Homo sapiens: one gene and its partner. The protein of the gene in region 2 purifies or fractionates together with the protein of the main gene of each other region. This does not show direct contact. Each region holds a gene or a part of one and is shown on either strand. Other genes may lie near its edges.

What was found. The genes of interacting proteins can lie anywhere in the genome.
Region 1: the proteins of PRDM13 (region 2) and EIF4B purify together in Homo sapiens (affinity purification with mass spectrometry; one large-scale study listed by BioGRID and IntAct). This does not show direct contact.

The regions. Positions count from the first base shown.
Region 1 is NC_000012.12:53,009,061-53,013,757, reverse strand, and holds part of EIF4B (eukaryotic translation initiation factor 4B), read right to left. Parts: intron 1-4,697. UniProt on the Homo sapiens protein: Required for the binding of mRNA to ribosomes. Functions in close association with EIF4-F and EIF4-A. Binds near the 5'-terminal cap of mRNA in presence of EIF-4F and ATP.
Region 2 is NC_000006.12:99,604,804-99,610,093, forward strand, and holds the start of PRDM13 (PR domain zinc finger protein 13), read left to right. Parts: upstream 1-2,029; 5' UTR 2,030-2,231; coding exon 2,232-2,375; intron 2,376-3,937; coding exon 3,938-4,069; intron 4,070-4,383; coding exon 4,384-4,504; intron 4,505-5,290. UniProt on the Homo sapiens protein: May be involved in transcriptional regulation. Is required for the differentiation of KISS1-expressing neurons in the arcuate (Arc) nucleus of the hypothalamus.

The DNA.
Region 1 (4,697 bases), on a different chromosome or scaffold from region 2:
TGGAGTGCAGTGGCGCCATCTTGGCTCACTATAACCTCTGCCTCCCAGGTTCAAGTGATTCTCCTGCCTCAGCCTCCTGAGTAACTGGGATTACAGGCATGTGCCACCAAGCCTGGCTAATTTTTGTATTTTTAGTAGAGATGGGGTTTCACCATGTTGGCCAGGCTGGTCTCAAACTCCTGACCCCAAATGATCCACCCACCTCGGCCTCCCAAAATGCTGCGATTACAGGCATGAGCCACTGTGCCCAGCCTCATATGCAAAGATCTATGGGAGATTTTAATAAGCGAACACGAGTAAGACATGAGGTAAACCACTTACAGTGCGTGGGCTTATTTTAGACTTTTTCATATCATTTAATTCAAAAATAGTGTCTGGGATTAATATGATGCTAGCTACAGATCCTTACCCTCATGGGGCTTAATCTAGTACCATCAGCTAATATCCAATTATTAACCTGTCCTTCCACTGGGAGGATAAAAACAGAACTGGTGGTCAGTACAATAAGGTCAAGTTCAACAAAAGAACATTAACAATCTGAATAAGGTATCCCTTTCCTCTTTGTTCTATATACGTATCTTCTACCAAAACAGCAGAATGTGGAATTAATCTGCCCTTTAGTCCGATTTGGCTTAAATCAACTTTGTAGATCACAGTTTCTCAACTCTCACCCCTTGACTCCTTTGACAAACAAGTTTCTTCTTTAACGTTATTTGAAATTTCCAAACAAATTAAATATCATGACTAAAAAATATTAAAAGCACTTTTAAATCTTAGAATGTCTTTTCAAATCACAAGTCTCCCCCTCCTCTGATTGCCACCCACTCCCAGGCCCTCTGGTTAAGAAATTACTGTTGGGTGTGGTGGCTCACGCCTGTAATCCCAGCACTTTGGGAGGCCGAGGCGGGTGGATCACGAGGTCAGGAGATCGAGACCATCCTGGCTAACATGGTGAAACCCCGTCTCTACTAAAAATACAAAAAAATTAGCCGGGCATGGTGGCGGGCACCTGTGGTCCTAGCTACTCGGGAGGCTGAGGCAGGAGAATGGCGTGAACCCGGGAGGCGGAGCTTGCAGTGAGCTGAGATCGTGCCACTGCACTCCAGCCTGGGCTACAAAGCGAGACTCCGTCCCCCACAAAAAAAAGAAAAAAAAAAAAAGGAAAAAAAAAAGAAATTACTGTTGGATAAGTCTTTTTTTTTGAGACAGAAATTTTGCTCTTGTTGCCTAGGCTGGAGTGCAATGGTGGAATCTCGGCTCACCGAAACCTCCGCCTCCCGGGTTCAAGCGATTCTCCTGCCTCAGCCTCCCAAGTAGCGAGGATTACCGGCATGCACCACCACACCTGGCTAATTTTGTATTTTTAATAGAGATGGGGTTTCTCCATGTTGGTCAGGCTGGTCTCCAACTCCCAACCCCAGGTGATCTGCCCGCCTCTGTATCCCAAAGTGCTGGGATTACAGGCCTGAGCTACTGCGCCCCACCTGTTAGATGAGTCTTAAAAAAACAGGCTAAAATTCCTTACAAGATCTTCAACTTATTTAACTGTAGCAGCAGCACTGACTCAGTCAAAATATAAGCAGCAGGTTTAAAGGAATTAGCCCTTGGAAAGCAAAATCAATAAACCTAAAGTAGGTGCCCGTGTTTGTTCCACTCCGTTTCATTCCAGTTAACTGAGAAAAGATGTTATCTAAATCCTCCATGCCCTTTGCTCCCTCAATACCTAGGCCCATTACATGTTTAGATTTCAACAGTGTTCCCTCTGCTTTATAAGTAAAGCACTGTTTAATGCTCCAGGTTTATCAATCCTTTGCAATTCAACAATGAACTGGTCCAATTCTTTAATTTTCTCTAAATCTTATGTGAACTGGTTAAAAAGTTAACAAATCAATCACCTCACAAAACAAAACCTGTCCCAATTATTTATACATGGTCTACAGTGGGGAAAACACACCTCCAGCTCTTTATATACCCATACAGGTTTAATAAAAGATCTTAAAAACGGAAATATTGCTAAGTCCAGAAGCCGTTAAACAAGAGACAACACATTCATGGTTTTCTTAATAAACAGGATTTGTTATAATAGATACTAAAATAAATACAGCCTACTTCTTAACTCAGAGTTTCTCTATCTCAGCACTGCTGATATTTTAGCTTAGGTAATTTGTCATGGGGGGATTTTAGCAGTTATCTCTGATTCTGCTCATTAGATGCCAATAGTAATCCCCGATCCCCATTCCACTCTGACAACCAAAAGCGTCTCTGGACACTGCCAAATGCTCTGGGGTGGGATGAGGGTTTGGGATGAAAAGACTGTCCCTTAGCTGAGAACCATGTTCTAAGTGATGTTTCACTTCAATAAATAAAAAGATAAATGAAAAGGAATTGTTAGTCCTATATAAAGGACTTTTCTTTGGGGGTGATAAAAAGGTTCTGAAATTAGATAATAATGATGGTTGAACATCTCTGAATATACTAAACCCCACCAAATCATACAGGGTCTTGCTCTGTCACCCAGGCTGGAGTACAGTAGTGAGATAATGGCTCACTGCAGCCTTGACCTCCAGGGCTTAAGCAATCCTCCCACTGCAGCCTCCCAAGTAGCTGGGACCACAGGTACATGCCACCACCCCTGGCTAATTTTTAAAATTTTTTTTGTAGAGACGTGGTCTCACTATGTTACTTAGGCTGGTCTTGAATTCCTGGGCTTAAGTGATCCTCTTGCCTTGGCATCCCAAAGTGCTGGGATTACAGGAGTGAGCCACTGCACACGGTCCAAACTGTATACTTTAAAAGTGTAAATTTTATGGTATACAAATTACATTGAATAAAGCTGTTACTAAAAGTGAGTTCTGCCACATTCTCCATAATTAAAAGCTACTTTAGGCCAGGTGTGGTGGCTCATGCCTGTAATCCCAGTACTCCGGGAGGCCAAGGTGGGAAGATCACCTGAGGTCGGGAGCTCGAGACCAGCCTGGCCAACATGGTGAAACTCCATCTCTAGAACCGCTTGAACCCAGGAGGTGGAGATTGCAGTGAGCTGAGACCACGCCACTGCACTCCAGCCTGAGCCATAGTGAGACTCTGTCTCAAAACAAAAACAAAAACAAACAAAACAAAAGCTACTTTAAATAATGAATAACAAATGTTTCCCTAAACCAACAACATTGCATAAACACAATCGATCCACCCAGAGTGCCTAGAATTAGACTAATTATATTGGTGTTTACAGCCCAGCCATGAAAAGACATTTCATGCAATGTAATACAATATTTCACCTTCACCTTTACTGCACTATATAGATGCTCCCTGACTTATGATGAGACTGTCAGGATAAACCCTTCTCAAGTAAAAAAATGCATTTACTATCCGGATAAACCCATTGTAAAGTCAAAAAGATCCCAGTGCAAGCCACCTTTTGATTTAGTTGGGGATTGGGTAAGTTTAGCATAGTAAAGACTGAGTCAAAACTCATAAGCTCCACCATCTTGACCCCCGTACGGGTTCAGTTACATGACCTCTCTGTGCCCAATTACTTCATTTTGACAGAAGATGCCATACTACCTTTTCCTTATCCCTCCAGGGATACTCAATTTGATCATATACATAATCAAACAAAATAAGTGCCCAATGCATGCCATGCTAACCATTACACAAAATGGGAGACAGGAGGTACACAAATTCAAGTTAAACTTCTTGATTTGGTACTTTCCCACTATCAGGACCATAGCAGTATCTACTACAAATTTAAGAAACTGGCTCATAAATGTACATAAGGCAAACCTAATTACAAATAATTACTTAAAATACTGTACTCAAGTTCAGTTATTTCCTCTACCATCACGAAAAGAGAATTCCAGAATGTTTTGAGATGAAATATACCTCTTTTTTCAATGACATTACTTAGAAACACTGCTTTATCTTAATTGACACTATTCTGTATTTGTATTTAAACTTTCATAAAGAGTTTTAATTTTGGCCTTCTGGGTATCTTACTCACAGAATAACATATACATGATAGAGGATGGAACTTGACACTAGGGAATCTGTAAGCAATATATAATGGCACCCCTTAAAACCATTTCACTGTGAGAGTCAGCAGTGTATGAAAACAACCACTGCAGAGCATCTTCTCCCTATAAAAATAATCAAATAAGATGTCACACAGGACTGCATTTTGAAGCATTATGGAAATGAAAGGCCTGTGCATGAGCTTACATATGTTATTTCCAATTTTAAAGTTTGTTTTTGTTTTTTTTTTTTGAGACGGAGTCTCGCTCTGTCGCCCAGGCCGGAGGGCAGTGGTGCAATCTCAATTCACTGCAACCTCTGCCTCCTGGATTACAGGCGTGAGCCACCACGCCCAGCCCAAAACCCCGCTAATTTTTGTATTTTTAGTGGAGACTGGGTTTCACCATGTTGGCCAGGCTGGTCTCGAACTCCTGTTCTCAGGTGTTTCACCCACCTCAGCTTCCCAAAGTGCTGGGATTACAGGCATGAGCCACTGCACCCTGCCCAATTTGAAAGCATTTTAAATGTTAACCTGTATCAAACGCATTTGATTCCCTCTAGGTAAGGGGACAGCAGATAAATAATGACCACTTTCCAGATAAAGAAACTGAGATTCAAGCGGTAACTGGCTTATTACTGGCAAGTCTACTAAAGTAGTCACAATGAAAATTTAAGAAAAATGAAAA
Region 2 (5,290 bases):
ATGGGCCGCTGGATCAAAGCCTCCCTCTGCTCTGTTGAGGGCAGTCTTCGCAGCCCTCAGAAGCGCAATTGGAGGCTTCTGAGGAAAAATCAGTGGCAGCTCCCTCAGAAAGTGACCTGGGCATAGTGTGGCTGCACGGTCCCAGAGGCCACAGTGTGTGGCCCTCCAGACCTTTCAAGCGGCTCTTCTCTGCCTCGGCAGCCATGTATACACAGGCCCTGGAGTTGGCCCGAGGCCAGCCTTCCGTGTGTCCTCTCATGGTCTGACTTGAGATGCTTAGACTTGAAACCTTTGGCCTGGCCTGGATTTTCCCATTAGGCAAACAACCAGTTTTGGAGCTTCTAGAATGCACGCACTCTACAGATTGTTGTTACAAACCGAAGTGAACCACGGAGAGGAAGCAAAGGGTCTGTTTGTATCCATCATTCCCATTTTACAGACTGGGAGGCTGAGCCTCCGAAGCAATCCACTAAAGGTTCCCCGAGTCTTGAGTGGGAGAGCACAGGGTGAATGATCCTGAGTGTCCTGGTCCTGCCCAGTGTGGTGAACATAGGTTTCGAGTGAGGGGCACCACACGGAGCTTCTTTGAAGACCCTCCTCAGATAAACTGCTGAGTTGCAGGTGTCGCCACCTTGCGTCCTGCCACCCTTGCTAACCACAATCGCTCCAGCACTTTCAGCCGACAAAGCCTCGAGGAGAAGCTAGCGTGGGCGCTGCTGAGGGCCCTCTGCCCTTTTGTGCAGTGGTTGGGCCTCTGGCGCTAGGCTTGGAAATACACCACCACTCAGGCCTCTCTTGGAAGAACTGCATCGGGCTCCGGTGCTGGCTGCATAGGATTTGGGGAGCTGTGCTCAGAACTAGCAGCACGCGGCAGGTGCCGGCAGAAATCACAAATATCTGATGAACTTGATTACTTGGCTACTATTTATGAAAATAAATGTTCTCACGCCAATTGGAGGCTTCCCTAAAAGAAAACGGGTAGCTCTCCGGTTTAACTCTGAAGTACAACGTCTTGTTAGTTCACAAAGTAGGTGTAAGAAAGAGTTGTCCCAAACGCCCACCTCGCCCCTCTTCTCTACAACCTTTAACAGATTGCGGTGATTTTCGTTTTTGTTTACTGTTTTTTTTTTAATAGAAAAGTCCAGGTTGCTGGTTTTAGGGAAGTTAGTCCAAGGACATCTTCTAGGGGACGTGATCAATAACCCACTGGTAGAACTTCTTCCTCTTCAACCCTGGGCTGCGGACCGGGGCGCAGGATCCCCATTCGAAACTGTTGGTTCTGGGGCTGTTTCCCATTCTCCAGAGAAAGTGCAGGCCCGGGGTGTGCCCGAGAAAAGTGATGAGCAGTTGACCTCCCCTTCTCAACTTGGTCTGGAGGCTTCATCATATTTTCGGACGAAATGGGACAGAAGTGAGAATTAAAGCGGTTCTGAATAGACGACTGGCCTGAACCCAATCCCCTGAAATGGTAATATGGTTGTTATTTAAAAAGTGTAGGTATTTTCTGGTGTTTTCCCATCAAGTACCTGCCTAATTTCTGTATGGCACACGCCAGAAATCAATAGTAGTTAACAAGTCCTCCAAACAGTCTCCATCTCTTTGTTTAATCTCCTTTACAATAAAGCCAAGGGGAGAGAATTAAAAATCTTTGAAGTAGATCAAGGCTCAAAGGAATCAGCCAAGTAGACTTAAAGTAGTCACTTATTTCCCAAAACTGGTTTGTCGGGGAACAATAAAAGGAAGTAAAATTTATGGAGAAATTATACAGTGGATTTGTCACTTAAAATATCGTAACTGTCTGGAGGACAATACCCCATGCTGAGGATTAATGGTCCCGCCGGACCTTTGATTCACCAGTGCCTTTTCTTCGCCCTTGACAAATTGGATTTTTAGGAATGGGAAGGTCGCCTGGACCATTGTGTGCTAGCCATTCAGCGGCCTCGATTATGCAGGGGGCTGAGGGAACCACTCCATGTGACCCTCTCGGGTGGGACTCTGCAGCTGCTTCGCAGCGCAACTCTCTCACCAAACTCCGCGCCCTTGCGCTAGCGGTGCCAAAAGGCTCCCGCCCCGATTGAAAAGGCGCAGTGCATGCCCGCCCGCGTCACTCCGCGGGCGGAGGACGCACGTCGGGGCGCGGCTCTCTGGCTAGCGCGCAGCTCCAGCTCTGTCACTCGCGCCCTTCCAAGGACCTGGAGCACCCGAGCGCCTGCCTGGTGGCGGCGGCAACAATGCACGGAGCCGCCAGAGCGCCAGCCACCAGCGTGAGTGCCGACTGCTGCATCCCGGCCGGCTTGCGCCTCGGACCGGTGCCTGGTACCTTCAAGCTGGGCAAGTACCTGTCAGACCGCAGGGAGCCCGGGCCTAAGAAAAAGGTATTGACCATTCAGACCTCTGCCCACTGCCATTCGCCTCTCAGTGCCCTGACCCGGGAAAGGGGTACGAGAGAAAGTGGAGGAAGGGAGTGATTGAGTCGTTACCTGCTAATTCTGCCGGGTGGAAGGGGACTCCTATTATTCTGAGCAAGTAGCCTCTTTAACTGTGAGAGCTGGACGGGGTCGGGCTGAGAGGAGAGGATGTGGCCGAGAGGCGACAGCCCTGGGTGGGGTGCACTGAGCGCTGTAGGTGCCGGGACCATTCGCAGCTTGTGTTTTCCCCTGCGCTCTCGGGTCTCCTCAGTCAGAAGCCAGAAGCCCACCCCCGCACGCTGTCCGCAGCTCTCTCTGCAAAAGCACCCTCTTTCTGGGGGCTCAGGGCATCGAGACCCTTTCTTCCCTTCTGCCCTTCAATATGTTAATTTGAGGCCTAATTTCGCCTTAAAGTAATTTTTTTTCCTGAAAAAAAAAATCTTTGGGAGGCTCTCAGTTCCTAGAACCTCCTCAGATATTTTTTTTTCCCTTGCCGATGTCGGCTTGTGGGTATGCGGCATATGGAGAGAGGATGAGCAAGGTACTGGCTCTGACGCGGGCTCCAAGGGCGAGGCGCGCCCATTCGCGCGGGGCACAGGGTCAGAGCGTCTGCAGCGGGGCTCTGAGAGTCCAGAGGCCCAACCGGGAGGCGCCAGGGCCAAACCACTAGCTTTGACTCCCACACTCCACACACCGTCGCGACCCCTGACCAGAGAGACTTATAGCACTCGCCCGCTTTGGGGGCGTCCCAGGAGCCAAAGGTCGGCAAACAGCGACCGGGAAATGAAGGCAGAAGTCTGGGGTAGAAGAAAGGACTTTGGCTTCCTTGGCTTTAGCTTGCCTTGCTTGGAGCTTTCTAGTAAAAAGCTCCGGTGTCCAGCCAGCGGGACTTGCACCTCGCTCCTCCTGCAATCACGCCCCCCACTACAGTCTAAAGCGGGGTTTGGTGCCCACCGCGCATTCCTCTTTAAACGCGTTTTAATTGCTTTTAAATGGCCTGCCAGCTGCGGGCAAGCTTTTCCCCGCTTGGGCTTTGTTCCGAGACTTTAGCTGCAGGGCTCACAGGCAACTAGGTGCGATGCACACAGAATACAGGAGGCATGAGATAATTTTTTTGTTTGTTTGTCGGGGGTACGCTCTGGGCCCTGGGACTGACCTAGAAATGTCTCTACCGTGGTGTTACGGCTGCTCTCAGAACTGCAAATGGGAGAGCTGGGGTAGGGGACAACTTGGTACAAGATGTGCCTAAGCACTCAGGGAGGATGCTCTCAACACCCCTCTCCCCTCCCCGTGTCGTCAAGGTGGGGCGCAGGGAAGTGGGAGTACTGTTAGCATAGGTAGACTTTCCTCTTTCTCCCTCCCCGAAGCAAGGTCCTAAGGAATTCTCCTCCTCCCAGTAGCCCATAGTGGTCTGGCCAAACCAAAAACAACCACTTTCCTGTGTTGGGTTGGGGTGGAGGATAAACTTTCTGTTTGGGTTGTGGGCCTGGCCAAGGTGCGGGGGAGAACGACCACTGCTTGTGTTGCAGGTGCGCATGGTGAGAGGGGAGCTGGTGGACGAGTCGGGGGGCTCCCCTCTGGAGTGGATAGGGTTAATCCGGGCAGCCAGAAACTCCCAGGAACAGACTCTGGAAGCTATTGCAGACTTACCCGGAGGACAGGTACTGCGGGCTTCTCTCCACACCCCCCCACTCCCCACCGCCAATTCAGTCTACCTAACCGTCCCTGCGGTGGCCAAAAATATTAAGAGCAAAGTACTTTAGCTAGACGTCTCATTTAAACGTCTCGACAACCCTTTAAGGTAGTTACTATTGTTTTTCCGTTTGAAGGATGACGGAAGTGAGGTTCAGAGAGCTCCAGTAGCTTCTCCAGGGTCACACAGCATCAGAATCCGGATTTGAACCTTTCTTCTCAGTTGCTTTTTGACCGATTACCCAGGAAATGACATTGAACTGTTCTATTCCTTGCGTCCCAGATCTTCTACCGAGCATTGCGAGACGTCCAGCCAGGGGAGGAGCTGACAGTGTGGTATTCTAACTCCTTGGCTCAGTGGTTCGACATCCCCACCACAGCGACTCCGACTCACGACGAGAAAGGTACCCATTCCAAAAGCGTGGATGGGCAAAAGTCCAGCCCTCCTCCTCCTGTCTTGAAGCGAGTCCCTAGACATAGCTCGATCTATGTAAAATGGAATTCACATTCCCTGTATTTCAAGGCAAAGAGGAGAGAGGTCGCCACTACCTCCTTAAAATCAACCATAAACGATAACAGTGATAGTAGCAATCTGGCTCACAATGGCAGGGGAAAAAGTAGGCTCTATGAACTTAATGGGGCCATCCTTTTTCTGTTGCATATTCAAACAGACCATTATTTACTCAATTAAAATAAAAAAAATTAGGCGCGGTAGCTCACACCTGTAATCCCAGCACTTTGGGAGGCCGAGGTAGGAGGATCACTTGAGGCTAGGAGTTCGAGACCAGCCTGGGCAACATAGTGAGACCTCTGTCTCTACAACAAAAAAATAATTAGCCAGGTGCGGCGGTACATGCCTGTAGTCTTAGCTACTCAGGATGCTGAGGCAAGAGGATCACTTGAGCCCAGGAGGTCAAGGTTCCAGTGAGCCGTAATGTTACCACTGCATGCCAGCCTGGGTGACAAGTGAGACCCTGTCTCAAAATAAATAAATAAAAATAAAAAATAAAAAAGGAGCCTTAAGTTGTTGTTACAGTAATTACATCATGAGTTCCACAGAGTATAACTCAAACCTGGAATGCTTTTACAAAGTCCATGGACATTTCTTCTCCACTGGCTTTCCAGGAGAGCAGTGCATTTCTACAGCATTTTAGAAGTATTACGGTACTTACAGCTGGTCAGTTGGCAGG